7 separate regions of the Homo sapiens genome follow, and regions 1, 2, 3, 4, 5 and 6 are each linked to region 7. The links come from fine-mapping of genetic effects on gene expression. A gene starts in region 7. Each other region holds a variant in brackets. All regions are shown on one strand. Distances are between the middles of the regions.

Region 1 (4,068 bases), 21 kb after region 7:
GCCAAAAGTATATAAACTTGAATTATTTATGTTCAGTAATTAATGTTTTAGTATTGTATCTTATTTATAAATGGTCTAGATATTTAATGCAAATCTTTTACTTAGCTTAAGTTTAAGGTTAAAAATTAGCAAAAGTAGTTTGGAAACTACTATTAGGCAGATTTACTGTGAACAAATTATTTTTGAAATAATGTTTTTCGCTTTTCACAAGACGGCACCGAAAGCGAAGGAAGCTCCTGCTCCTCCTAAAGCCGAAGCCAAAGTGAAGGCTTTAAAGGCCAAGAAGGCAGTGTTGAAAGGTGTCCGCAGCCACACGCAAAAAAGAAGATCCGCATGTCACTCACCTTCAGGCGGCCCAAGACACTGCGACTTCGGAGGCAGCCCAGATATCCTCGGAAGAGCACCCCCAGGAGAAACAAGCTTGGCCACTATGCTATCAAGTTTCCGCTGACCACTGAGTGGGCCGGAAGAAGATAGAAGAAAGCAACATGCTTGTGTTCTTCGTGGATGTTAAAGCCAACAAGCACCAGATCAGACAGGCTGTGAAGAAGGTCTATGACAGTGATGTGGCCAAGGTCACCACCCTGATTTTTCCTGATAAAGAGAACAAGGCATATATGTTCGACTGGCTCCTGATTATGAAGCTTTGGATGTTGCAACAAAATTGGGATCATCTAAACTGAGTCCAGCTGGCTAACTCTAAATACATGTGTATCTTTTCACCATAAAAGAATAATGTTTTTCATAAGAGTGACAACTTAATTAGAATCAAATCTATAAGCTTTAAGATTTTACATTTCTGTAAGTATAATATTAGCTTATTTGACTAGAACTCAAGCAGAATAGGAATTTATGTTTGTTTTATATTCAAGTGATAACTTTGAAGACATAGTTTTATTACACCAAAAATTTTATATTAATCTCATTTAAGTAAGTTTTATCCAAATCATGTTAACTTAAAAAACATTTGATCAGTTCCTATATTTCTAGGAGTTTGGTGAATATTTATTTATAAATGGTTATTTTTTTCCAAGCCAAGTTAGAATAGAGCACTTTTATAGGATTTTATAAATGAATTTTGCAGTGCTATCCGGAGTTAAGAAAATATCACATATACATTACATACAGTAATAGATATACAAACACAAATAGAGATTTCATAGCTTTCATCCTGAAATTTCAGCCATGAATCAGGCATAAATATTCTGATGGTTAATTTTAGACATCTACTTGATTGGATTAAGAAACATACATAGCTGGTCAAACAATTTCAGCCATGAAACAGGCATAAATATTCTGATGGTTAATTTTAGACATCTACTTGACTGGATTGAGAGACACACGTAGCTGGTGAAACACAATTTCTGGGCATATCTGTGAAGGTGTTTCTGGAAGACACTGAGATAACCCTGACCCAGTGTGGATGGGCACTGATATGGTTTGCCTGTGTCCCCACCCAGATCTCATCTTGAATTGTAGTTCCTATAATCCGTACATGTCGTGGGAGGGACCCAGTGGGAGGTGATTGAATCATGGTGGTTGTTACTGCCATTCTGTTTTCATGGCAGTGAGTGAGTTCTCATGATCCAATGGTTTCATAAGGGGCTGTTCCCCTTTGGCTCAGCACTTCTTCTTGTTGCTGCCATGTGAAGAAGGACGTCTTTGTTTCCCCTTCTGCCATGATTGTGAGGCCTCTGCAGCCACGTGGAACTGTCAGCCCATTTAACCTCTTTGTTCTTTATAAATTGCTCAGACTCAGGTATTTCTTCACAGCTGTATAAAAATGGATGAATACAGGCACCATCCAATTGGTTGAGAGCCCAGATAGAATAACAAGGAAGAGGAAAGGTGAATTATCTCCTGAAATTGAAACATCCTTCTTCTCCTGCCCTTGACATCAGAATCAGTGTCTCAGAGCTTTGGCCTCAGAATCAGAGTTACACCATTGGCTTCCCTGATTCTGAGTCCTTTATATCTGGAGTGAGTCATGCT[G/A]CCAGCTTTCCTGGTTCTCCAACTTGGAGACAGGCTATTGTGTAACTTCTCAGCCTCCATAATTATGTGAACCAATTCCCCTAATGAGTCTTCTCTCATCTATCTACATATATCCTATTGATTCTGCCTTTCTGGAGAACCCTGACTAATGTTATTACAATAATACAAAATTCACTAGTTTATATAGAAGACTTGGTTTTTGTCTTTGCCCCATTTTGTATTTGTATTATAACTGTGTATCTGGAAAATGGAACAAGTTTTTATCTTCTTCATATGAGGGCCAAAGCTTTTTTCTCACCAATATTTTTGGAGATTTTTAAGATTTTCTTTTGTTTGGACATACAATCTTATGGAGGCTGAGAAATAAAATTTTTTCTATTTTATTTTTCAGCCCCAGATGTTTGCTTTTGCAGATTCTTGAGCACATTGAGAGCATGGAGAGCACTCCAAGGCATGGAGTGGGGTGCCTAAAGTTTCAGTGATTACAGGGAGTTGAGAGACTCAACTGGGAAAGGAAAAGTCTAAAAGGAGGCAATTTGGAAGATAAAAATTTTCTCAAAGGAGCGATTAAATTTCTAAATAATTCTTAGTAAAATCATGTAAACAGGAAAGGAAATAGAATTAGTTCCATATTGGTGGAACACATAGCAGAGGTTTGAGAAGGGAGAATTTAGTCAACTGAGAAGTTCTCATGAAAGGAGCAAGTTCAAGATCACAGAGACACCTTGAAACAAAAAGCCAGGAATAACTTCCAACCCAAGAGGAGAACAGAGAGGCCTCAAAACCAAAGCTAGGATAAGAAACTTGTAGCCCAAGAGTTATCTTCCAGACAAAGAAGCCTGAGATTCCAACGCAGCTTCAGAGAGTGCTCACTCAAAATGTTACTGAAACTGAAGGCTTTTTAATGACTTAGCCATGCCTGCAAAAGGCATTCCCTAAGGTGGCACAGAAGACGGAGCCCCCATATCCAAAGATAGCCAAGGAGAAAGAAAGACCCCTGTTGCCAGAGCCAGTGGGCAAAGGCAACAGAAAAGGAGACAAGGGTCCTAATGGGATGAGATCCTTTCGGATTTAGGCTTTTATACAAACTCCTGAGAACTGGCGGGTTGACAGCCATAAATGGGGTACCAAACTTTCTACTCATTGGATTACAAGTTCTCAGGCATCCAGAATGATGAACAAAATGACAATTTCTAGGGCTTCTGTGGGAGAGTATGGAAAGGTCTTTTTGAACCTTTTAATGCTGTCAACGGAAGAATGATGAGGTTCATAAATTTGGAAAGGAGACATTTCTTCATTTTTATGTTTATTTTTATTTTTTTTGAGACAGAGTTTCACTCTTGTTGCCCAGGCTGGAGTGCAATGGCGTGATCTTGGCTCACTGCAACCTCCACCTCCTGGGTTCAAGCGATTCTCCTGCCTCAGCCTCCTGATTAGCTGGGATTACAGATGCCCACCACCACACCTGGCTAATTTTTTGCAGTTTTAGTAGAGACAGGGTTTCATCATGTTGGCCAGGCTGGTCTGAAACTCATGAGCTCAGGTGATCCACTTGCCTTAGCCTCCCAAAGTGCTGGGATTGCAGGCATGAGCCACCCAACCAGTGAGAGATTTATTTCCTATAAAGGGTTGTAGCCTGCAGGGTTGTCCTTCTGACAGGCTGGGAAGCATAGCCTCCAGCCAGAAGCCAGAAACAGACTCTTCAAGGAGGAGGTAAAGGAAATAGCAATTTATGCTGACTGGAATGGCCAAATACATTTATTTAATAAGCTCCAGGAGGAGTCATGAATATTTATGGAAGGAGAAATGCATGCATGCACAATTGAGTTTCTGGCTTCTTCATGGGTCCCATGTACAAAAAATGGCAGTGTTAGCATGATCCCAGGGTGGAGTTTTCAGCCCTCTGACATTAAAAGGTGAAGCAGAGGACATGAAAACTCGCTCTGTGCATCCTCTGTACGCTGGCCAGAACCTCTCTGTTGTGGGTGGTCTCTTATCAGGCAAGAAAGGAGAGGTTGATATCGGTAGTGGAGGCTTTGAAAGGGCTGGTTTCTGTTAAATCCTTAGGGAAGAAAG
Region 2 (4,068 bases), 22 kb before region 7:
TGCTGAAAAAATAGCCGAAAATGTGGAAGCGACTTTGGAACTCGGTAACAGGCAGAGGTTCTAACAGTTTGGAGGGCTCAGAAGAAGACAAGAAAATATGAGAAAGTTTGGAACTTCCTAGAGACTTGATGAATGGCTTTAACCAAAATGCGGATAATGATATGGACAATGAAATCCAGGCTGAGGTGGTCTCAGATGGAGATGAGGAACTTGTTGGGAACTGGAGCAAAGGTGGCTTTTGTTATGTTTTATCAAAGAGACTGCCAGTATTTTGCCCCCGCCCTAGAGATATGTGGAACTTTGAACTTGAGAGGGATGATTTAGGGTATCTGGCAGAAGAAATTTCTGAGCAGTATATCATTCAAGATGTGACTTGGGTGGTGTTAAAGGCATTCAATTTTATAAGGGAAGCACAGTATAAAAGTTCAGAAAATTTGCAGCCTGGTGGGTTACTGACACAGTGCAGGCCCCTCCCACTGCGGCAGCTGAGCCTACTGGCAGGGCAGCCATAGTGTCACCACCTTATGTGACACCCACCTGTCTGACTGGCCGACCAGTGGGTTACAGGCCCCCCCTGTGCAGGACCCACCCTTTGTGGCAGTTAAGTCCACCCAAGCTGAGGTATCCTGGCGAGATCTTCACCTGGGTCCCATGGGGAAAATCAGTCAGCACCATATGTGCTCTGGTGGACAGGTGAGTGTCCCTTATGCCCCCATCGCCATAGTATCAGGAGAACTAGGAAATGAAATAAACGTCTTTGGCTAGAGCATGTCCTTGTCACCCCTTCCCTGAGTACTTTCTCTTCGGACTCCATTGTGTTGTTCCATTAGTTATTTTATTTTCAGTCCTAAAATGTGTGCAGTCTTATGTTTGGTTTTACCTTTCTGTTAATTGTTTGGGGACGATTAAGGCAGGATACTTGGTTGTGAGAGATCCCCACTGTTTTTACTTCGGGATGCTAGAGTCATGTTGTTTGCTGACCCCAATTTGGTCTTGGATTGACTGTTGGCCGCATTCTGGGTGCCCCAGGGTTTTCAGGATTTGGTGAAGGGACCCTTGTTGGCTGAAACTTGGGCCTTCTGAGTTTTCAACATTGGTATTCTGGCCACCCCCCATATGATCTGGAGTATTTGTGTTGACATTCCCTCTAGGATTCTGAGGGATATATGAGTTATAGCCCTCTCCCTAGGGGAGTATTGGTCTTGCCCTTTTCTGCCCTATAAGTTAGAAGTATTTTCCTAATAGCAAGCTGCTAACCCTTCCTTTATGCTGTCTTCCAACTAGCTTGCTCAAGCCACTCTTGGTCCAAGGAAATGGGAATTCCCAGGCCCCTGGCATAATGGAGAGCCACCTACAGTGGTAGGCAATTGGCCACGTGAATATTTTTTTCAGTGTCTCTGCTACGGGATAGGTTACCCAGCAGGTCAGGGCCTCTGAGGTCTCCCCTTGGGCAGCACTGTTTACCTCTTCCATTTCTCCCTTCCACAGTCCCTCCCTTCCATTTTTGAGCCCACCTCTCTACCAACCGTTGCTGTCTGTGGCATTTAGGTTCAAAATCCAACTGCCCATTTGAAGCTCATAATCCACTTTTTAAAAATTATGCTTTAAGTTCTAGGGTACACGTGCACAACCTGCAGGTTTTTACACAGGTATACACGTGCCATGTTGGTTTGCTGCACCCATCAACTTGTCATTTACATGAGGTGTTTCTCCTAATGCTATCCCTCTCCCAGCCCCCACCCTTGTCAGTCCCCAGTGTGTGTGTGATGTTCCCCACCCTGTGTCCATGTGTTCTCGTTGTTCAACTCCCACCTATGAGTGAGAACATTTGGTGTTTTGTTTTCTGTCTTTGTGATAGTTTGCTTAGAATGATGGTTTCCAGCTTCATCCATGTCCCTGCAAAGGACATGGACTCATCCTTTTTTATGGCTGCATAGTATTCCATGGTGTATATGTGCCACATTTTCTTAATTCAGTCTGTCACTGATGGACATTTGGGTTGGTTCCAAGTCTTTGCTATTGTGAATAGTGCCACAATAAACATATGTGTGCATGTGTCTTTATAGTAGCATGATTTATAATCCTTTGGGTATATACCCAGTAATGGGATCACTGGGTCAAATGGTATTTCGTGTTTTAGATCCTTGAGGAATTGCCACACTGTCTTCCACAATGATTGAACTAATTTACACTCCCACTGACAGTGTAAAAGCCTTCCTATTTCTCCACATCCTCTCCAGCATCTGTTGTTTCCTGACTTTTTAATGATCACCATTCTAACTGGTGTGAG[A/G]TGGTATCTCATTGTGGTTTTGACTTGCATTTCTCTGATGACCAGTGATGATGAGCATTTTTTTCATGTGACTGTTGGCTGCATAAATGTCTTCTTTTTAGAAATGTCTGTTCATATTCTTTGCCCACTTTTTGATGGGGTTGTTTTTTTTCTTGTAAATTTGTTTAAGTTCTTTGTTGATTCTGGATATTAGTCCTTTGTCGGATAGGGTAGATTGCAAATATTTTCTCCCATTCTCTAGGTTGCCTGTTCACTCTGATGGTAGTTTCTTTTGCTGTACAGGAGCTCTTTAGTTTAATTAGATCCCAATTGTCTATTTTGGCTTTTGTTGCCATTGCTTTTGATGTTTGAAGGGGTGGCCTTCCCCTCCACACCTGTGGGTATATCTCACCAGGTGGGATGAGAGATTGAGAAAAGAAATAAGGCACAGAGACAAAGTATAGAGAAACAACAGTGGGCCCAAGAGACCGGCACTCAGCATACAGAGGACCTGCACTGGCACCGGTCTCTGAGTTCCCTCAGTTTTTATTGATTATTATTTTCATTATCTCAGCAAAAGGAATGTGGCAGGAGAGCAGGGTGATAATAAGGAGAAGGTCAGCAAAAAACATGTGAGCAAAAGAATCTATGTCATAATTCAGTTCAAGGGGAGGTATATGCCTGGATGTACACGTGGGCCAGATTTATGTTTCTCTCCACCCAAACATCTCAGTGGAGTAAAGAATAACAAGACAGCATTACTGCAAACATGTCTCGCCTCCCACCATAGGGGGGGGTTTTCTCCTATCTCAGAATTGAACAAATGTACAGTCGGGTTTTATACTGAGACATTCAGTTCTCAGGGGCAGGCAGGAGACAGTGGCCTTCCTCTATCTCAACTGCAAGAGGCTTTCCTCTTTTACTAATCCACCTCAGCACAGACGCTTTACAGGTGTCGGGCTGGGGGACGGTCAGGTCTTTCTCATCTCACGAGGCCACATTTCAGACTATCACATGGGGAGAAACCTTGGACAATACCCAGCTTTTCAGGGCAGAGGTCCCTGCAGCTTTTCGCAGTGCATTGTACCCCTGGTTTATTGAGACTAGAGCATGGCAGTGACTTTTACCAAGCATACTGTTTGTAAACATTTTGTTATCAAGGCACATCCTGCACAGCCCTAGATCTCTTAAACCTTGATTCTATACAACACATGTTTTTGTGAGCTCAAAGTTGGGTCAAATTGGCTGGGGCAAAGTTACAAATTAACAACATTTCAGCAAAGCAATTGTTTAAGGTACGGGTCCAAATTGAATTTCTTATGTCTTGCCTTTCTACATAGACACAGTAATAGTCTGATCTCTATTTCTTTTCCCTACAATGTTTTAGTCATGAAGTCTTTGCCCACGCCTATGTCCTGATTGGTATTGGCTAGGTTTTCCTAATCTACTTTTGTAACACCTTGGCAACTATAGAAAGTGGGAAATGAAAAGGGAAAAGTAAGTATGCATTTGCTAAACTTAGGCTAACTAAAACCCCTTGTAGTGAGCCTTACTAGACATGGGGACAACAGTAAGCATTCAAAAAGACTCGCCACTCGGGTGTCATTTAGGCCATTGGAGTAGCTTCAAATTATTAGACAGGTTGAAAAAGAAAAACCTTGTTTACTATTGCAATAATGTTTGGATTCAATAAAAATTGATAAACCAACATATTTATTCTAGACACGGTTCTTTACATTATAATGATATCATACAGTTAGATTTGTTGTGTGAAAAGGAAATAAAATGGTAAGAAGTTT
Region 3 (4,068 bases), 28 kb after region 7:
GGCACAGCACCGTGGGCAAGCAGGTCCTGTAGTGCCCGGGTACAAGCAGGGGGCACCCGAACCGGGCTTTTCAGATTACTCAGGTTCCACCCGTCTGTGCGCTGCGCCGCCGGGGACGTGTGTCTCTGCGCCTGCACCTCGCCATTCCCGCGCTCCCCGCCCGGCGGCGTGCAACTGTACACCTGCAACACGCCCCGCCATCCTGAGCCCAGCGACGTGCGTCTCTGCGCCTGCGCCTGCGCCGCGCCTCACTCCCGCCCGCCCAGCGACCCCTCCCCTCCGGGGACGCGGAGGCGTGCGTCTATGCCCTGCGCCGCGTCTCCCGAACAGCTCCTGCGCCGGCGCGCCGCGCCTCTCTGCGCCAGCGCCGGCGCGCCGTGCCTTTGCGAGAGCGGAGTTGGGTTCTCCTCAGCACAGACGCGGAGAGCATCGCGAGGGCGGAGCTGCGTTCTCATCTGCACAGATTTCAGTGGTACTGCGAAGGCGGAGCAGAGTTCTCCTCAGGTCAGACCCGGGCGGGCGGGCTGAGGGCACCGCGAGGGCGGAGCTGCGTTCTGCTTAGCACAGACCTGGGGGACACCGTAAAGGTGGAGCAGCATTCTCCTAAGCACAGACGTTGGGGGCACTGCCTGGCTTTGGGACAACTCGGGGCCGCATCGACGGTGAATAAAATCTTTCCCGGTTGCAGCCGTTAATAATCAAGGTCAGAGACCAGTTAGAACGGTTCAGTGTGGAAAACGGGAAACCAAAAGCCCCTCTGAATCCTGCGCACCGAGATTCTCCCAAGTCAAGGCGAGGGGCTGCATTGCAGGGGCCAACTGCAGTGTCGGAACACAAATGCAGCATTCCTAATGCACACATGACACCCAAAATATAATACCCACATTGCTCATGTGGTTTAGGGTTAGGGTGAGGGTTAGGGGTTAGGGGTTAGGGTTGGGGTTGGGGTAGGGTTAGGGTTAAGGGTTAGGGTTAGGGGTTAGGGTTAGGGGTTAGGGTTAGGGTTCGGGTTCGGGTTCGGGCTAGGGGTAGGGTTAGGGTTAGGGGTTAGGGTTTAGGGTTAGGGGTCGGGGTCAGGGTCGGGTTGGGGTTGGGGTTGGGTTTAGGGTTGGGGTTGGGGTTAGGGGTTAGGGGTTAGGGATAGGGGTTAGGGGTTAGGGTTAGGGGTTAGGGTTAGGGTTAGGGTTAGGGTTAGGAGTTAGGGGTTAGGAGTTAGGTTTAGGTTTAGGGGCTAGGGTTAGGTTTGGGTTAGGGTTGGGTTAGGGGCTAGGGTTAGGGTTAGGGTTGGGTTATGGTTAGGGTTGGGTTAGGGTTAGGGTTTGGGTTAGGATTAGGGTTAGGGGTTAGGGTTAGGGTTAGGATTAGGGGTGAGAGTTAGGGTTACGGTACTGTAAATAATTTCACATTATTACTAATAATAAATTATTATTTGTATTACACTGTTACGTAATGTAAACGCTATTAAGACATGTTTTTCTTCAAAGAATGGCCTTGGTTTCTGTGGGCTGTGCCTCGTCATGGAAGGGTAATGCATTCCTGCTAAATC[A/G]TGGACAAAACGGGCTTCCAGGAGCTACAGGCCCCTGCAGCAGCAGCTTCTCCTCTACGTCCTTCACTGCCTCAAACTGTTGTTGACTTTGAAAGCTTCTTTCAGTCTAGTTTTATCAACAGAGCTAGTATTTCATGAGGTTCTACTACATACCAGGTTCCAGAAAGCTAAATGCCTTTTGTTATTATTCACTAAATACAAATCACAACTCTCTCCTCATTACTCACACAACAAAATTTAGCTGAGGGAGATTGAGTGACTTTCCCAGGGTCACATAGCTACTAAGAGCAGAGTCGTGTTTAGATTCATGTGGGAATATTGAACACAGAAATGAACCAGTGGAAACATCCTATGTTCCAAAAGCCTACTCAAGGCATTTCTTCTTATTTTAAGGAAAATCTTTATGCTAATTTTAAACTCCAAATACTTATGAATGGCAGAGATCTACAGATTTGATTCTGATGTAAGAAATGATGGTCACCAGCTGGTTACTGCTACCACCCCACAACCCCGAGCATACTGGACGAATGTCTAAGCCTTGTGGTTAGTGGGGACAATGCTGGTGGAGTCTGAAGTTGTCATGCAGTGACTCATGCAAGCTTAGGCAGATTTGGTAATATATGACACAGAGATGCAAAGAAATGTTGTAGCTGACACACACAGGCTGGCTCTGGGAGATGCAGAAGGAGCACGTCACCCAAAATAGAGCCAGACAAGACATCCTTAAGGAAGGAGCAAAAGGGCTGCATCTTAAAGAATGTAGAAAGGATTTGTCATGAGAGATGGGGCAGGAAGTTCTTGAGAGGCAGAGGGAGAGCATGAGAATGTTAGGAAGGGAGGAGAGATTCTCACACATCTGGGAAGCTGACAATCCATCAGCATGGCCAGAAGGAAAATAAGGAGGAGGAGCAGAAATAGATGAGGCTGGATATAGAAGCAGGGCTGAAGCTGTGTCGATTGTGGTAAAGAGTTGTGATTCTATCCAGAACGCAATAGGTAGCATTCTAAACAGAGATCTTTTCAAACAAGAGTCAGCAAGTATTTTCTGCAGGAGGCTAAATGTTAAATATTTTAAGTTTTCCAAGCCATATGGTCTCTCTCTCAATGACTCAGCTCTTCCATTATACCATGAAAGTAGCCAGAGACATTATGTAACACATGTATTGGCTGTGTCCTATTACAACTTTACTTACAAACGCAGACTGTGTCAGACATGGTCCATGCATGGTAGTTTGCCACACCCTGTTTTAGAAAGCTCAGGTTTATGATGTGATGGAGAATGCCTACAAGAGCTCTTGTTTTAAATGGTAGAGTGAACATACACTGGAATTCTATCCTGCTTGACCCAAGCTCTTGATAGCAAAAGGTAGAAAAGATAGATGGTAAATAGATAGATAGATGATAGATAAAGAAAATACATAGCTGTTCCAGAAAACAGAAATGGATAACTTCATGAACCAAAAGCAGAGTAATATACTTTAGAAAGGAAGCGGGCCAGAAAACCCACAGTTGCAAAACAAATAGAATTTCCAACTGCCTCTTGTAGCCCCTTCCTGGAAGTAGTCACAGCCCAGGGTGTTTGACTTCTTCCTCTGTTTTTTGTTTGTTTGTTGTTTGCTTTTCTGTGGGGTTTTTGTTGTTGTTGTTTGCTTTTAAAAAAAAATTCCCTTTCCCTGCTTTTTTGTCACAGCAGCCTTTGTCACTTCAAACACCGCAAGTGTTCTTTAAAAAAAATTATATCAACCTTTCAATTAAAATGCAACATGTCTGAAACTTGGTATCTGGAGAGGTGAGTTGGACAAAGGAGCCCTTGTTACTGCACGTTTTCATTCTTCAAATTTCACCTTGCACACAGTAACAGACAGTGCACAAAGCCACTTCCTTATGGACGGAAATTCTGAAATCCTTTTATGCCTGGCCTTTCCATCCTTCAACTTCCCCTCTCCCACGCTGTGAATGATTGTATTGGACATTTTTGTTTTAATGTCAGTGACAGGGGAACACAGGTAGCTCTAATATAGCTGTGACCCAGATGCTTCTGTTTCTAGCATGTATTTATTTTGCAGCAAACATTTACATCCATGATGTTTCACTGTCTTTTGAAAATAATTAGGCAATATCTCATCTGAGGTAGGTTGTTTCTAGGGATTGTGTTCTGAGGGAGGAAAACTAATCTGTTCTCTTTCCACTGCATTCTAGGAACAGTAAGAGGACCTTGTGCATGAATAATTTGTTTCCACACTACAGAGTGGGTAATAAGCAGATTAGTAAAAACAATTCTGCTTCACTTCAATAACAGCTTCCTCCAACTCATTTTTTCTCAACAAACTTATTTTTCCAGCAGAAGAATCCCAGACTTCTTAGAGAACCCAGTGACTTTTTGTACCTTAAATCTGTGAAATCCTCCTGTTTTCTTCTGCCGTATCCATAGTTCAAACAAAGATGAGGCAAAGCTAGATGCATTCCTGAAGGAACCCAAGAAATTCCTCTCTTTCTTTCTCTGGAATGAAATGAATTCTCTA
Region 4 (4,068 bases), 48 kb before region 7:
ACTCTAACGTGGAGTGTGGACTCTGTAACGTGGAGTGTGGACTCTGTAACGTGGAGTGTGGACTCTAACGTGGAGTGTGGACTCTAACGTGGAGTGTGGAATCTGTAACGTGGAGTGTGGACTCTGTAACGTGGAGTGTGGACTCTGTAACGTGGAGTGTGGATTCTGTAACGTGGAGTGTGGACTCTGTAACGTGGAGTGTGGACTCTAACGTGGAGTGTGGACTCTGTAACGTGGAGTGTGGTTTCTGTAACGTGGAGTGTGGACTCTGTAACGTGGAGTGTGGACTCTGACGTGGAGTGTGGACTCTGTAACGTGGAGTGTGGACTCTGTAACGTGGAGTGTGGATTCTGTAACGTGGAGTGTGGATTCTGCAACGTGGAGCGTCTCCAATAAGGCCCTTTCCAGCACAAACAGCAAGGCTGGGACAGCTTGTTCTTGTGCCTAACAGAGAACCTTCTGTCTGAAGACTGGAGAAAGAGCTCCAGTGAGATTTCCTGTGAGGTGTTGGTTCACGTGATCGTGAAAGCTGCAATGTCCCACAGCCTGTCATCTGCAAGGCAGAGATCCGGGAAAGCCAGTGGCTTCGTTCAAAGGCCAAAGAGCCAGAAAGCCAAGGGCAAGAGAAGACTGGCGTTCCAGCCCCACCATCAGGCAGAGAGGGAATTCAACCTTCCTCCACCTTTTGCTCTATTCAGGCCTGCAGAGGATTGGATGAGGCCAGCCCATGATCTTCACTCAGTCCACTGATTCAAATGCTCATCTCTTCCAGAAACACCCTCACAGACACACCCAGAAATCATGTTTTAACGGCTATCTGGGCATCTCATGGCCCAGTTAAGTTGACACATAAAATTAACCCTCACATGAGAACACACCTTCAAATTCAGGTTGTTTTTGAATGCCTGAGTATGGTGTTCTAAAAAGCATGTGCATATGAGGTATTAGAATGAATACATGCTTATTTAAATTCCACAATAGAACATGTAAATTAGTATTTTATTTGTCTTAAATATATCTTTAATATAAATATGCCTGTTACATAAAAGTTCCATCATTTCATAGAATTTTGTGGTCTCAATTCAGTCCAACCTAATTTAACTATAAAAATTTTTTTGAAAACTTAAGTTACAGGGAAGGAAAACTAAGACAAATGCAGCCATGACTTGCAACGAGTTTACAAATCAGTATAGGAAGAAACACATGTGCACAGAAGGCCGTGATACGGACAATGCTTGTCAGAGTATTCTGAGGGAGATCTTTCCAAAATAGCTCTGATTATGAATGTCCAAGGTCTCTGCATTGTCTGCAGGAGAAGACCGAACCCCCGTACGGCCTCCTACAGAGACATTCACATCAGAATCCATTTTCCTTCTCCGTCTTCTTTCTTCTCCTCATCTACAGTCAGGACCCTTTAGGTTTTAGCCACACCCAGCTGCTCACAGATCTCTCAAAAATCATGTTCTCCCATTTGTCCTTGTGTGTTTAACAGGATTGCTTTACCCTAGAATTCTTGTCTTCTTTTCTACACTGAGCATGCATCAAAACTTATTTCAGCATTACCCACTTCCCCAGGCAGGGTTTGTCTTTTCCTCTCTGGCACTTCCTAGCC[G/A]CATTGTGTGTAACTGTTATAGATTTTCAATATAAAATTACAATGATTCATTTATTCACCTGCTTTCCTTGGCTGAGGAATCCTCGGGCCAGGGCCACTCTACTGACGCTGCAGCTCACTGAGGAGCCTGGGTGCACCCTGAAGATGCAAGGCTGGGGAGTGGGGGTGAGTGCATGGCTGAAAGGGCCTCAGGAGCAACCTTGTTCCTCCTTCTTATGCTGTTCATCATGATGGTGTTCAGAAACCTTTCGTCTTGGCTTCACCTGTCAGAACAGTGCCCTAATCTTGTTCGTTTTTCCTAGAATACTGGTGCACAGAATAATGGCCCCAAAGGTCCCTAATGGCCCCCTACATCCTAATCCCCAGGATCTGTGAATACGCTATCTCACTTGGAAAATGGGCTTTGCAGATATGACTAAGTTAAGGATCTTGAGATGGAGATTATCGGGTTATCTGGGTTTGTCACACGGGTCCATACAGGAGGAGGCAGGAGAAAGGTGTGGGGAGGCAAGCAGAAGTCACAGTTGGTCACTGAAGGTGCTGCCCTGTGGGCCTTGAGGATGGAGGAAGGGCACGAGCCCAGAAAGACGGGCCCCTCTGGAAGCTGGAAAAGGCTGGGAACAGATTTTCCCCCAGAGCCTCCAGAGGAACGCAGTGCTGCTCACACCTTGATTTCAGGACTTTTGGCCTCCAGAACTGTAAGAACACTAAATTGTTTAAACTATGAGTGTGTAGCGACTTTTTACAGCAGCTGCAGGAACTAACCCAGCACCCATGTCTTGCCTCTTCTGAGCTGCTCTCCAGCGTCCCTGCTCTCAGGGTTCCATGGCCGATACCATGCACAGCACTCCTGTGAGGGAGGAGGCATAGTGAACATACTTGCTTTGTGGTTAGAAGAGTTATTTCATAATGTTAGTGGCAAAATAATATCAAAAGTACAGTACAGTCAAGAACTTTTGGAGAAGACGAGATTTCTGGAGAGTTCTGGGTACCAGAAAGTCACACCGAATTTGAGTTGGAGGAATGACTATATTGGACACAATTTACGACGATGTATTATTTTCCTTTGAATGCATGAGAATCTATACTTCGCAGAGTTTTGTAGAGCTAAACATAACATGCATCTGATCTTTTCTACAATTAACCCTGTTCTGAGTTTCCTCAGAGAATTAAAAGCACATTTAAGAGGAATTCTGGGAAGGTGGTAGCAATGTTCTGTTGCTTGCGCATTTCCCCAGATTCTCCCAGAAACATACACAGACTAGATTTTATAGCAAAACTAAGGACCCATTGAAATACCTTCAACAGAACCTGGGACAAAGTACCCTCATGAACCCCACATATGGCAGGGCAGAGACAAACAGTACGGCTCAAAGCTCTGTGTCGAAGAAAGCTGGGAAGGGAAGTATGCTTCTGATGGCCCCACAAACAGAAGCACCTCAAGATGCCAAAAGGAATTCACGGGGAAGTGAGGTATGAGCACAGGGTCTGGCCCAGGAGCTCCTGAAGGACATAATTTGTAGCTTTGCCAAAGGGAGCATGAATGGAATAGGATCCCAGTCACGGAGCCATCTGCTTCCTACAAACTCCTGTACTGAGCACATCCCTGCCCTGCAGAAAAACTGCCAGGAACACACTCAGATCCAAGTCGAGCAGGAGCAGGACAAGCACAACACAGCAAAGGAAGGAAACACCACGCCAGACTGGGGAGCGGGGGAAGGCTGGTTTCTGAACGCACAAGGCCAAGTTGTCCCTGTGGAAACAGCAGAAACTCCGGAGCTGTGGCACTCAGGAAGCTATCCCAGCCTCCTGCCCTGTCTTGCACGCTCAGGAAAGCAGATAACAACCACGGGAAAATCTACACGAGCATTTTCAAATCCCCCCCCACGATAAAAGCAAGTCAGGAAAATATAGATTTTCCTGAATATTAAAAAGAAATCACTATGTTAACAACTATAACAATAATGATGAAAGCAAACAAGTTAAAAAAAACAAACAAACGTTAAGTTAGACCACCTGGAGGCAAGGTGGGCACTTACATGGTGGGTAGTTTAAGTGAGTATTTTACTTTCGCATCATTGAGAATCAAAATTTTTGATATGATTGAAAGGCAATCGTTGTGCAATCGACGAGGTTAACTCGAAACACTGTATTCCTGAATTTGAATCACCCAGTATGAAATGACTAGCTCTAGCTAGAAAAAAAACTAAAAACAGGCATGAAGTCCAGATCAGTGAACACCTCGTGAGTAGACTGTGGTCACTCATGGCCTCTCTCAGCAAATGACCTGTGGCTTCTGGAGAAATGCGTGGTTCCAGGCCTGAACCAAGCGTGTCCCAGCTGTGCCTGCAACAGCACACCACACCTGAAGGAACAGACTTATCAGAGACCGCCGAACTTACCTCCAAAGGCTCAACCCAAATAAGCCCCCATTGGCCAATGCTGCAAGAGTGTGA
Region 5 (4,068 bases), 730 kb before region 7:
CTGCCCACATGTGGCTTGTATTCAGTAAAAGTCAGATATTCCCAAGTTACAACATAAACAGAAGTCACAAATCAGACTCTGCCTGAAGTCACCAAATTAAAATTCAAAACTGAGGGAACACAAAAGGAAAGAAAAATTGGGAAGACAGGTGAATAACAATGTGTGTGCATCTGTGTCAGCATGAGGGCAAATGAGCACGTGTGTGAGTGCATTTGTGTATCAGGAGAGAAGCTACAGACTAAATACAGTGAAGATACTGACGTAAAGAAAAACAACATCATAGTCATCATGAAGAAAACACCTGTTTGTTATACTTTCAGTTCTAGGGAGTTTAAAGTATTTATATATATATATATATATATATATATATATATATATATATATATATATATATATATAGTGGTGTTCAACAAAGAGGTGTATATATATATATATACATATATATATATACACCTCTTTGTTGAACACCACTTTTGGGATCCTTTAAGATTTTATACAGTAGTAAAACAAACCTCTTTCAGCAATAAATGTACATAGGTATTTGTACATTTCTCAGAAATCCACAACCCATCCAAGAAAAAAATCCACAATTTAAGTCAAATTGTGCATTGAAATGTTGAAATAGCCATGCATGTCAAAATTTTGAACTTTTCCTCTTGCTCTGAATTGAATTCTAGGTTTCACATCCTTATCTTTCCATACAACTATTGAACACGAATAAATCTGAAATTCATGAAGGCATCCAAACAATTAAGGGCATCTTAAGCCTCAGCAACAGCTACTTTTTCTTAGAATCAAATGAGTAAGAATAATCTACTCACTCTCAAAACCACAGGCACCCAAAGCCTAAGCGGCACAGAATTCTCAAGTTCATGCCTTATCTGAACCTTCATGTTCGAAAGGGATATGCGCTTAAGCTGGGCTCATTCCCATTTTCTTCAAACTAGAACAAACTTTAGGAAAAACTAACATGGGGAAAGAATCTCACTGTCCATCAGTAAGGAAGTGTTTAAACGTGTACAGTGTATGAGCACATGACACAGGCAGTGAAAGCACGAATGTCAGCGATGGCCCAGCCACCTCTCCAAGGAGCCTGTGCTGGAAAGACATCTGTATAATCAAGAAAGGTAAATACACAAAGAAGTTTATTTCAGCATTCATTTAAAAGAAAAGTAACCCAAATGTCCACATGACACATGTGATGGAGCATCCATATTTGCAATGTCACGCAGCCACTCAAATGCAAGAGACACATCAATGGCCAGTAGATTTATCTGATGTATGTCAAGTGACAAAAGGCACAGTGAAGCACAAAATAAGCTCAGGATCAATTTGTGAGAAAAAGAAGTATATTTTACATACAGACACATTTATTTTACAGGCGTGGAAATAAAGCTGGAAGAAGGTTGACCATCCTAACAACAGTCATTTCTAGCGTAGGAAATGTGAGGAGAGGCAGATGCTCACTCTCAGTCCATTTGCTTCTATGTGTTTGAATAAACCCAGATGTAAAAGACTCCACCAGTAGCAAAAACCGTGAAAGAGGATAAAAGATAACACCCATCACATTTTGTTAGAGGGAAAAAGAAGGTTACAAAGCAGTGTGCATAGCATAAACTAATCATTACCAAAAATACTTATTCATCCATTGTCATTTTTTAAAAAGTTTGAAAATTAAAAACTTTTAAAAAAAAGATATGAAAGCATTCTCAAAGACCAAATGGATATATTTAGAGTTACTAACTCAACTACAGAAAAAGATGTTTGATTCACCCTAAAACTTTCCTGCGGAGTTGGTTTGAAATGGAAGCTTCCTCGATACTTATCTTTTTAAATGATATTTTAAAAAATCATCTTAGTCATGATTTATCAGAAACATGTCATCCGTTTTCTCTTTCTGATCAAGTGTTCAAAGTTACATT[C/T]ATGAAGCTTCACTCATTCATACCCCAACGTGGACAACTGGTAAACACTTCCTGGGAAAACGCTGCCTGGAACAATCGCTGAAACTCAAATTCCTATGGATTCCCACAACTGGCTCCACTGGTCCAGATGTTACAGCTGCGTTTACTGTGCAAGAAACGAGGATGATGCCCCTGCTCTGGTCTCAGCGCGTGACTGACCTCATCAGGGAGTCTGGCGAGAAGCTGTGATCGTCCCTCAAGAATGGCGCTTGTCCTTGGGAGACCACGGGGGTCACGGCAGAGCTGAGAGTCCCCGTCCTCTACACTGGCTCCAGCCCAGGAGAAGGGTACCTGGCTGCTTGCAGACTCATGGTAGCTGTCCTTGCCACCACGCTCCTCCTCAGGCTCAGGAGCCACATGCGGTGGTGAACAGCGCTGTGTGCATGCGGGGGTCGGGCTCTGGAGCCGCGTGTGTGATGAACAGTGCCGTGTACAGCGCAGGGGTCAGACTCAGGAGCCCTGTGTGGTGAACAGTGCCGTGTGCAGCGCAGGGGTCAGACTCAGGAGCCGTGTGAGGTGAACAGTGCCGTGTGCACGCGGGGGTTGGGCTCAGGAGCCGTGTGAGGTGAACAGTGCCGTGTGCAGTGCGGGGTCAGACTCAGGAGCCCTGTGTGGTGAACAGTGCCGTGTGCAGTGCGGGGCCAGACTCAGGAGCCGTGTGAGGTGAACAGTGCCGTGTGCACGCGGGGGTTGGGCTCAGGAGCCCTGTGTGGTGAACAGTGCCGTGTGCAGCGCAGGGGTCAGACTCAGGAGCCCTGTGTGGTGAACAGTGCCGTGTGCAGTGCGGGGTCAGACTCAGGAGCCCTGTGTGGTGAACAGCGCTGTGTGCATGCGGGGGTCGGGCTCTGGAGCCGCGTGTGTGATGAACAGTGCCGTGTACAGCGCAGGGGTCAGACTCAGGAGCCCTGTGTGGTGAACAGTGCCGTGTGCAGCGCAGGGGTCAGACTCAGGAGCCCTGTGTGGTGAACAGTGCCGTGTGCACGCGGGGGTTGGGCTCAGGAGCCGTGTGAGGTGAACAGTGCCGTGTGCAGTGCGGGGTCAGACTCAGGAGCCCTGTGTGGTGAACAGTGCCGTGTGCAGCGCAGGGGTCAGACTCAGGAGCCCTGTGAGGTGAACAGCGCCGTGTGCATGCGGGGGTCGGGCTCTGGAGCCGCGTGTGTGATGAACACTGCCGTGTGCAGTGCGGGGTCAGACTCAGGAGCTCTGTGTGGTGAACAGTGCCATGTGCAGCGCAGGGGTCAGACTCAGGAGCCATGTGAGGTGAACAGTGCCGTGTGCACGCGGGGGTTGGGCTCAGGAGCCGTGTGTGCGGTGGCGACAGTGCCGTGTGAACGTGGAAGTCGGGCTCAGCGAGCGGGAAGGCAGTACCCCCCGGAGCATGGCCACAGGCGGAGCCAAAGGCCATCGCAAGGCCACCAGGATCCGAGCCTGGCAGCGCTGGAAGGGCTTCCAGTAGAATCTGCACAGAGCAGCAAGAAGTGTGGCCCTCGGGGGAGGGTAGGTGGAGGCGGTGCCCACCCTTGAGAGCAAATGTCCAAAGGCCTGGGCCCCTTGGGTGTGGGCAGAAGCCACACTGGGACCCCTGAAGAAGGACCAGGCCTTGGTGAGGAACATTAGGAGGCCGAGGCCCCAGGATGGGACAGACACTTGCCACGCTCTCTGGCTTCCCGCGTGGGGAACACGGCAGATACCAGCAACATTTCCCAAGGACTCTGTTTACGTTTCAAATAAACAGCTGAACCTGGAGATAGGCACAGCATGTTAGAAATAATTGTTCTTGACTTACGATAGGCTTTGAATAAAAGGCTGGGTCCTCTGCGACTCTGCTCTGTGGGAGAATTGTGTGTCTACACAGAAAGGTCTTCAACGCAGGACAGCAAGTGACAACTGCGTCGCAGCAGAGTCCACGACAGTACAGCGCCACCAGGGCTGCGTGCATAAAAACATGCGGGAATAGCCCTCTGTGAAGCACTTTTTCATTACTGGTTTATAAACAGAGAGTCCACCTAGACACAGGACTATCATGCTTCAAATTAAGGTGAATCCCTGAAGACGTCAGATAGGTTCAAAAATTTGGGGTTTAAAAACAGCTTTATGTCTCCCTGAA
Region 6 (4,068 bases), 92 kb before region 7:
AGTTACGTCCCACCTATCATGACAATTTCATTAAGGAAAAAGTCAAACCACTTTGGAAATGATTTAAGTGAGCAACTTGGAAAAATTTCCTACATTCCTAACTTACTTTCCAGGGGATTGTTCCTGACTTAACATCTATCAGGTGTCTTAGCTTAGCTCTCTTTTTACTTCAGGTTTTTCTTGCTTCCTCAGTGTGCTGGGAGTCCCACTCCACTCAAATGCCCTCAGGTCTAATAATTAACTTCATTGCGGGCTCCTGGAAGGCCTGGGTGGGCGGCAGCTGCATTGTGCTCCTGAAGAAGATTTAAGTTGGGTTTGGTGAACTGGTAGAATTTGCATTTTGCTGTTTCTTTCCCTCTCCCAGAATTGGTACCTTTAAATAGGTTTTTTAGTGTCATTAAGTATATCAAAAGGAAACCCAGTGGGGCAAAGTGGCCGGGCTCCATAGAGGTGGCCTTGTCTAAGCCTTTCATCTTATCGATAAGGAAAGACAGGTCCAGAGAAGTCGCCGACTGTCCCTGGTCCCACTGCTTGGTTTGGGGCAATTTCCTGAAAATAATATCCAAGATGCAAGGCATATGGCTCTGGTGAGATGTGTGTGAGGAGCTGAGAATGAGACGGCTGAGTGTCGGGGGCAGATCACGAAGGGCTGTGCTCACCATCAGGAGGTCTGGACTTCGCTGTGAAAGACACAGACCCTCATGTACGTCCAGGATGCGGTGACAGTGAGGCTTGCAGGAGACAGGTCCCTGCTGTGTGGGGGTGAGGCTGGAGGCAAGATGATGCCTGGAGCTAAGAGATGGTCACAGGAAATCTGGCAAGAATTAACAAGGACTGGACAGTGACAGGCAGGCCAAAGAGTGAGAGGAACTTCACTGGCAAGAGCCAACAGGGCTTGTTGATTTAGGAGAGGAGACAAAGGACTGAGGGGTTTCTGGGCTGGGGGGCTGGGGCCTGGGAGGGTGGAGAAGCCACTGTCTGCATTATGGGATGCAGGAGGAGAAGCATTCAGTTTTCCACACAATGAGTTCCCTGAGAGGTGTCTCAGTGGGATCGTGGTGCAGTTGGAAATGTTCAAGAGAAAGATGAGAAGCGGCACCAGCAGCAAACATCCAGGAACCCAGAAACCATCAGCACAGGTGCCTGCTGAGTCCCATAGACCCACCATGGCCCACCAGGACCAACCAGGAAGCAAGTGTGGAGCTGGGAGTGAGGGAGCTGGGTGTGGAGATCAGGGGGAAGACTGTCATCCAAAGGGCGAGAGTGGGAAGGATGGAGTCATCTGTAGCTAAAGGGAACCACCATTAGTCAGTCCTTGTGATGAAGGTGCAGGATGTTCCTGCTTCCGTGCACGTCGCTCTTGGGCTGTGGGCAAGTTTGGAACTGCTGTTGTTCCCCAGCATAGTCTCAAGCGAGTGGAATGACGGTTTCCTATAGAAGCACAGTTCCTACAGGAAAGAAGGCGTGGTTAAGAGCATGAGGGCCAAGGAAAAGGAGGGGATTAGAGATAGCCAGCAGTGAGGGAGACGGTTCCAGATACGAGCCGAGTGGGCAAAGCAGGGAATTCAAGAGAGAGAGGAGCATATATTATGCAAATTTTAAATTTTTTGGTAGCAAGCAACCTAGCAAATCTAGCTGAATCCAAAGGGGATTTATTGGCTCACATCATAAAAATCTAGTGAAAGATTCTAGCTGAAGTCATAACTAGATATACGAGTTTAAATAATTTTGTGAGAAACTGTTTCTTTGCTGTTCATCCACCTATCCATCCACCCATCTATCCAACCCTCCCTCCCTCCATCCACCCCTCCACCCACCTACTCACTCACCCGTGTCTTTATCCATTGATCCACATGCACATCCATCCTTTCATCTCTCCTTTCCTCCCTCCCCCATCCCTCCACCCCCTGTTCACCCACCCATTCATCCATCCCTGCATCTTTCCGTCC[A/G]CTTCTCTGTCTTCTTGTCTCTGCTTCTCTTTGTATTTTGTTCTCACTATTCTCTATTTCATAAGGCTTCCTGAAAGCGGCATCCATTTATTCCTTGTAGCAAGATCCCTAGAGAAAGACTCATAATTTATCTCTCAGTGTTCATAAACTCTCAGGGCAAATTTTATTTGGCCTGACTTGGATCACCTGCCAATATCTGAACGGATTGCATACCCAGGTAATGGAGTATTTTAATCACTGCAGAACCCCCACCCTCACCTGACCAGTGCCCCACAGCAGGACCACGAGCAGGGCCAAGGTGTCTCCAAGGTGCTGAGGAGCTGAGCGCTCAGCCAGCCCACGGCCACGATGGTGTGCCGCCGAAGCCACGCGGCTTACTTCACAGCCAGGATCCGGGATCAGGCTATGTCCCATGCAGCCTGATGAAGGGTAAAAAAGAGCCCAATGCAGAGTGCTGGGGAAGCATAGAGAGAGCCGGGGCACCTGACCCAGCCTGGGACAGTCAAGGGTGACTGCCGTGCAGGAGGTGGCATCTGAGCTGTTCCTTAATTAGAAAGCCTGGCACAGAATGAAGAATGCATTCCTCAAACTGAGTCAGGGTGCAGGGATCCACATGACCGTGCTCCTCTTATCCTTAGGAAGGGACAAGAGACTTCTATCCTTTGGCCTGCAGCTGCTGAAATGACCCTTGCAAGTACTGAATCATCTTTAATGAAAAAATACACTAATATGCTGCAAATTTGGAGCTTATCCTTTCAGCCCAATCCATGGGGAAGGTGTGAATTAAAGACCCTGTGCGTGTGCTGGAGGCATCGTGGACTTTTGTTCACGATTTCCTTTCCTTTTGATGCTTCAGTTATGGTGGTTGCAGCTCTATAAGCTGTGTGATATGGGCAATTCCTCTCACCTTTTGACCACTATTTTTCTTACTAATGAAATGAATACATACAAGAATACTTGAAGATTAAATAATGAAACATCTGATACTCACAGGCACTACAGTATTGGCTGAATTCTTAAGTGACTATAGGACACCTTTAAGCATGTTCTAGGGCAGGATAACCAAGGACACCATCTCACGTGCCAGGAAATGAGGGGCCTGTGTCCAATAAGTCCCTGGCTCCACGTAGCTCTGCTGTTGCCCACTTCTCTTGGACCCTGGTTGTGGTCTTGCCTTGCCACGGGGCCTTTGCTGGTGATACTCCCTCTGCCTGGAGTACCTCCATAATGTCCACTGCTGGGGCCTTGCCCATATTCTCTACACGTGGCACTGCAGTGCCCCCCCAGCCAGCTCCCAGGGGCCAGTGCCCCAGTTCCTTGTCCAAGGTCTTTGTCCCGCAGCTAAAACCCAATCTGCTGCCACCGGCTCCATCCACAGGCAAAAGTTCCAGGGAATAAATGCGTCAGGGCACAGCCCTCAGGAGACCTTGGTTACGGACATCTATCCGGCTCCTCGCCCTCTGGGGTGAATACATCTCAGGTGCATTCTTTTGGGTGTTTGTTTTTGCTTTTGTTGTTTGCATTGGCTCCCAGAGTCTGACAGTGGCAGAAGGCTGCAGCTGCCCACAGTGGTGACTGGTTTTAAGCGTACCCTTTGTTGGCCATCTTCCTCTCTCCTGGAAATAAACAGCCTGCACTCCAATCCTTGTCACAGGGTCAGCTCCTGAGGGATCTTCTTGGCCTTGCTAATGCTGGCTTATCCTTCAGAATTTAGCTTCCATTTTCACTTCTTCATGGGAGTCTTCTTGAGTATAGTCTCCTCATCATGTCTGCCGCGTCTTCCTGAGTCAGGGAATATCTCTTAGGCCATATCTATTATAGTCGTGGTCTGACTTATATTTGTGGTCAATTTTTTTCTCTTAATTTTTCGTAGAGACGGGGTCTCACTATGTTGCCCAGGCTGGTCTCAAACTCTAAGTGATCCTCCTGCCTCAGCCTCCCAAACTGCTGGGATTACAGGCTTGAGCCACCAAGCCTGGCCTATGTTTGTGGTCTCTTTGACTAAAAATGATCTTTTCTTCTAACCTGAAATCTCCTGAGGGATGAAACTTTGTGTCTCTTTGGTTTATCCCAGCATATAAGTAGTTACACTTTTTTGAATTAACAAATGAGCACAAAT
Region 7 (4,068 bases):
AGTTCGAATTCACTGGGTCACAGTGTGATAGCGTGAAGATGGGAGGACGTTAAGGGAAGGCTATGGGTGAGTTGGGAAATGTGTTAGGCAGGGTCAGAGATTACCACATCCTAAAAACAACACTTAAGGCGGGAGATGACAAAACAATCAATGAATAACATGACTTTTTCCAGTGAAAGTGCCATATCTAATCCTTTTCCATTTTTGTTCTCTGAGCTTCTTTCTTAGGGAAGATCCTTCTTGAGAAGCCCCTGCTGAGTATTAGGAAAATGCATTTCAGGACCTCTCATCAACACACCCTCTTTCTTTACCACAACCACATATATGGGGGCATAACTCAACATGTGTAAAAGACAATCTTCTGCTTTTCACTGAACCTCCAGGAATTCAGGACAATAAACCTCTACATGCAGACCAACAGGTGAGTTTTTCTGCCCCTTCTTTCATAACACCGTTCTTCCCTAGTGAAGTCCACACACATCCTTACATGGCAGCTGTGGGTATATCAACTGGTCTGACCCCTTTTAGTCACAGAGCCTGAAGTCTGCTAGTACCTGCTGAGCACAGTGTCATGGGTGAGAATGGGCAAGGCTTTTTCTTTCTCTGGTTCCTGAACTTCCCAGGCTCTCTCACTTCTGGATCCTGAATACCCAAATCCCAAGCTTCCTTCCCAGAACCAACACCTCCTCCTCATTAGAAAGATACCTTTGTTGTGTGCTTACTTTATAAAGTCTTGCTCTTTCCCTGTCCACTGCCTTGTGTCACTATGTGTGTGTCTTGGGGCCGGTGGAAAGGTGAACAGAAGCCAGTAGAGAGTAACAAGCACCAGCTTCACAGGAATGGCATGACCTTAATACGATAGTGGCAGTTTTCCCTTAACATCCCTGCCCCCTAAAGATTTCAGATCATATGTCACACTCTTAAGTAACAGCGATTTGTCTTTCACGGTTTTAATCATATTGATTAAAAGCATTTGTCTTCTCCAGAACATCACATTAAGTCATCAAAAAATATAAACCTTAAAAAGATGTAATTATTGGAACTGAAAAACATAAAAGGTGAGCTTTGGAAATATCTTTGAGCAGTCTATTCATTATGAACACATGTAATCTGTTGGAACAAAGTTCTAGGACAATCCAGGTCATCCTTCAATATTTGCAGAAAACAGCACAAAGAAAACTTGATACTTAAACTTAGTTGGAAACTTTATGCCACAGCCATTAAATACAGAGATCATATAAAGGAATAGAGGAAGCTGTTGAATACTAAACTAACTCAAATCATCATTATCCTTACGAAGTGCACACTGAATTAATGTAAAAAGCATTTAGTAAACAAAAAGTATTTTCAATATACAATTAAGACTGAAAAGTATTGAGGCCTCATAAGCTGAACCTGACACAATAAATTTAAAAGGGAAACTAATTTGGAAATCAGAAAACCATCTAAAGAATTTGGGAATTAGGCTTCTGCTGCCCTCTCTGCTACTGACGGTCAAGGCCTCCTCATTGTATTCTGTCCTCCATATCTCTGCTGATTCCCATTTTGTCTATTTCCATTTACCCCACTACTACTTGCTCAGGTCACTCTCCTTCATTGTCGGTGTTTGTTCAAATTCCTCAGACCCATCCACTTCCCATCTAAACTTCCCTCCCCTTTTCTCGCTCGTTGGCTCTACCTCCCTCCTCTGTTTTCTCCTCACTCTCCTGCCCCACCTCGACATCCACAGCGAGGCAATGAAGAAGCCCCTGCCAAGGAAGAGCCCGCTTCTCAGTGGGACACCGGGAAGGTAAACACCCAACAGTCACCGCTAGTGGGAGGCGATTGTGCAGAAGCACGAGGGTTGTTACAGGATCGGGCAGGTCCCCTACCCCAGTCTCGGACTCAGGGTCCTGTCTGAGGCGGCCACCCCGAAGCGTGGGGTTTGCGGAGACGTAGGGCCTGGCGGAGGGAAGGATGGGGAAGCATCTCAGGGAGGACTGGCGTCTGCCGAATCCCAGGGCTGCCCTGAGGGGCCAAGAGGGGCGAGGGTGGGGACGATGGAAGACAAGCCACATGCCGAATCGGGACCTGAGGCCGCGCGCGATAGGATGGGCGGACGGTGAAGAGAACTAGGGTGGAAGGGCCGGACAGGGGCGACCTCAGTGACGGAACCGGACACAGACGCAGATCTGGCAGCTGGGCGACAGGCTTCGGAGCATTTCCGGGCGTCGCGGGACTCCCCGCCGACAGGAGGGCGGTTGCCGAGCCTGTGACATCCGCGGAGACCAGCAGACCCCGGGTGTGGAGGACGCCGCAGGAAGGGAACTGCGTGGCTGGGTTTGGCCACAAAAAGCGGAGGGCACTCACCCGAGCGGACCTCGGCTCCGGAGAATCCGTTTCCGGGTCAACAAAAAACGTCGCGCGAGGGGCGGGGCCCGTACGTGCAGGGAGGGGAGGCAGAGAAAAAGGCGGGGCCGGGCCGGGGCGGGGTCTCGGGCAGGGGCGGGGAGCTTACCGACCTCCCGCCCCCGCTGCGCGCGTTTCTGGCCCTGCCAGTGTCTCCGCCGGTTGAAAGCGCGTGTCTGCGTCGGGTTCTGTTGGAGTGCGTTCGGTGTGCCGTGGGTCCGCGCTGCTTCCACCCAACTTCCTGTTAGGTAAGAGGCGCGTGAGGCTCCTGTGCCGGGGGCGGTGCTGCTCCCGAGTCGGCGCGCGGCGGGGACGCGAGTCCGTAGGTGCTGGCGGGAGCGAGAGTCGGGTGGGGACCCTCGCGAGCCCGCACTCCGCCTCTGGGTAGCAGCCTCTTCGGCCCCACACGGCGTGACGCGCGCTCGGGCTCCGCGTTCGCGTCGAGGCAGAGGCGTAGTAGGGGTCGGGCCCAGGGCTGGAGGGGCCGGGACCGGGCGGGGTGCCGCCCTGGACACCGCGCCGGCAGCTGTTCCGCGCGGGTTCATGTCATTCCTATTTTCAACCTGTCCTGCTCCGCACCTGAGATGATTTATAAATTCGGTACCTTTGGGACAGGCGTGGATGACATCCCATAATTTACTTCGTTATTAATTTCTAAATGTAATACATACCACTATCTAAAAGTATTTTTTAATTTGAAATATATTTGTATACGTATACATGTATATTTATTTATTTCTGAATTTTATCTCGTACATATAATGAGGCTCGTAAAGTGGATACTGTTCAGGACATAGGTGGATTTTGCTTTTAAGTAGTAAAGACTTAATTGGTGACTTACTGGGGCTATTTGATAAGGATTTTTTTTTAATGAACATTAAAAACAGTGAAATTGTATTTCCGGATTTCGTTAGCTTCATTTATATCTTAATTGGTGAAAACTGTAAGTTAATAACTCATTTTTATTTCCTTTGGAGATTCTTAAGTTTGTGCTACCAATGATTATTTCCAAAAAAGGCACACTTCTGGTTTTCCCAGAACTAATGCTAGCTTCTCAATCTTTTGAGTTTACTTGATATTAATGTTTGACCTCAAATCATGTCACATTTTTGAAGAAAACTTTCTCTTAGCCAATGGAACATAAACCACCCTGGAGTTCATATAGAGGAGGGGTTCAAATGCCTCTGATAGTGTCGTGTTAAAACTCATGGCCAAACGCAAGGTCACATAGCTTTCTTTCTATGTTTCCCTCTAGAATTTGTATAGTTTTGTCATTATAAAATGGGTCTTGTCCTAGACCCCAAGAACAGGTTTTTGGATTTCACATGGGAAAGACCTTTTGGCAAGTCACAGAGTATAGTGAAGTTAAGATAGTTTATTAGTGACTACTCAGCTACATAGCAGGGCGTCCTCAGAAAGCAAGAGGAGAAATGCACCTGTTGTAAACATATAATTTTTTTTTGAGACAGAGTTTCTCTCCTGTCACAATGGCATGGTCTCGCCTCACTGCGACCTCTGCTTCCTGGGTTCAAGGATTCTCCTGCCTCAGTCTCCCAAGTAGCTGGGATTACAGGTGCGTGCCAATATACCCGGCTAATTTTTTGTGTTTTTGGTAGAGACTGGGCTTCACCATGTTGGTCAGGCTGGTCTGGAACTCCTGGCCTCAAGTGATCTGCCTGC

Direction of the effects. Alleles are on the strand shown, and positions count from the first base shown. SD is a standard deviation of normalised expression in the study named. Not every link is listed here.
In carriers of allele G in region 1, the expression in lymphoblastoid cells of the gene that starts at base 2,309 in region 7 tends to be lower than with A alone (large effect, 1.7 SD a copy in GTEx).
For the expression in skeletal muscle of the gene that starts at base 2,309 in region 7, allele A in region 3 goes with a higher level than allele G (moderate effect, 0.53 SD a copy in GTEx).
In carriers of allele G in region 4, the expression in aorta of the gene that starts at base 2,309 in region 7 tends to be higher than with A alone (small effect, 0.20 SD a copy in GTEx).
In carriers of allele A in region 6, the expression in pancreas of the gene that starts at base 2,309 in region 7 tends to be higher than with G alone (large effect, 1.0 SD a copy in GTEx).

Evidence for each region.
Region 1: its variant is fine-mapped to the expression of ZNF596 in lymphoblastoid cells (GTEx, PIP 0.98).
Region 2: its variant is fine-mapped to the expression of ZNF596 in blood mononuclear cells (TOPMed, PIP above 0.99).
Region 3: its variant is fine-mapped to the expression of ZNF596 in skeletal muscle (GTEx, PIP above 0.99).
Region 4: its variant is fine-mapped to the expression of ZNF596 in aorta (GTEx, PIP 0.97).
Region 5: its variant is fine-mapped to the expression of ZNF596 in sun-exposed skin (GTEx, PIP above 0.99).
Region 6: its variant is fine-mapped to the expression of ZNF596 in pancreas (GTEx, PIP 0.96).

Annotation. Positions count from the first base shown.
Region 1 is chr8:209,854-213,921 of GRCh38, reverse strand. It overlaps the pseudogene RPL23AP53. Among named protein-coding and RNA genes, the nearest start is that of ZNF596, 21 kb to the left of the region's middle. The variant G/A (reference allele first, on the strand shown) is at 1,993.
Region 2 is chr8:252,353-256,420 of GRCh38, reverse strand. No RefSeq gene overlaps it. Among named protein-coding and RNA genes, the nearest start is that of ZNF596, 22 kb to the right of the region's middle. The variant A/G (reference allele first, on the strand shown) is at 2,291.
Region 3 is chr8:202,567-206,634 of GRCh38, reverse strand. It overlaps LOC124902051 (a long non-coding RNA gene), which reads left to right and starts at 1,355. Exons shown (of 2, transcript XR_007061161.1): 1 at 1,355-3,794; 2 at 3,888-4,068. The variant A/G (reference allele first, on the strand shown) is at 1,547.
Region 4 is chr8:278,392-282,459 of GRCh38, reverse strand. No RefSeq gene overlaps it. Among named protein-coding and RNA genes, the nearest start is that of ZNF596, 48 kb to the right of the region's middle. The variant G/A (reference allele first, on the strand shown) is at 1,613.
Region 5 is chr8:964,148-968,215 of GRCh38, reverse strand. All of the region lies in intron 2 of DLGAP2 (DLG associated protein 2), which reads right to left. Among named protein-coding and RNA genes, the nearest start is that of DLGAP2, 230 kb to the right of the region's middle. RefSeq lists enhancers at 2,278-3,111, 2,065-3,264. The variant C/T (reference allele first, on the strand shown) is at 1,923.
Region 6 is chr8:322,467-326,534 of GRCh38, reverse strand. No RefSeq gene overlaps it. Among named protein-coding and RNA genes, the nearest start is that of FAM87A, 59 kb to the left of the region's middle. The variant A/G (reference allele first, on the strand shown) is at 1,950.
Region 7 is chr8:230,697-234,764 of GRCh38, reverse strand. ZNF596 (zinc finger protein 596) reads right to left here and starts at 2,309. Exons shown (of 6, transcript NM_001042416.3): 1 at 2,071-2,309. It also overlaps the pseudogene RPL23AP53. RefSeq lists an enhancer at 2,103-2,422 and a silencer at 2,443-2,542.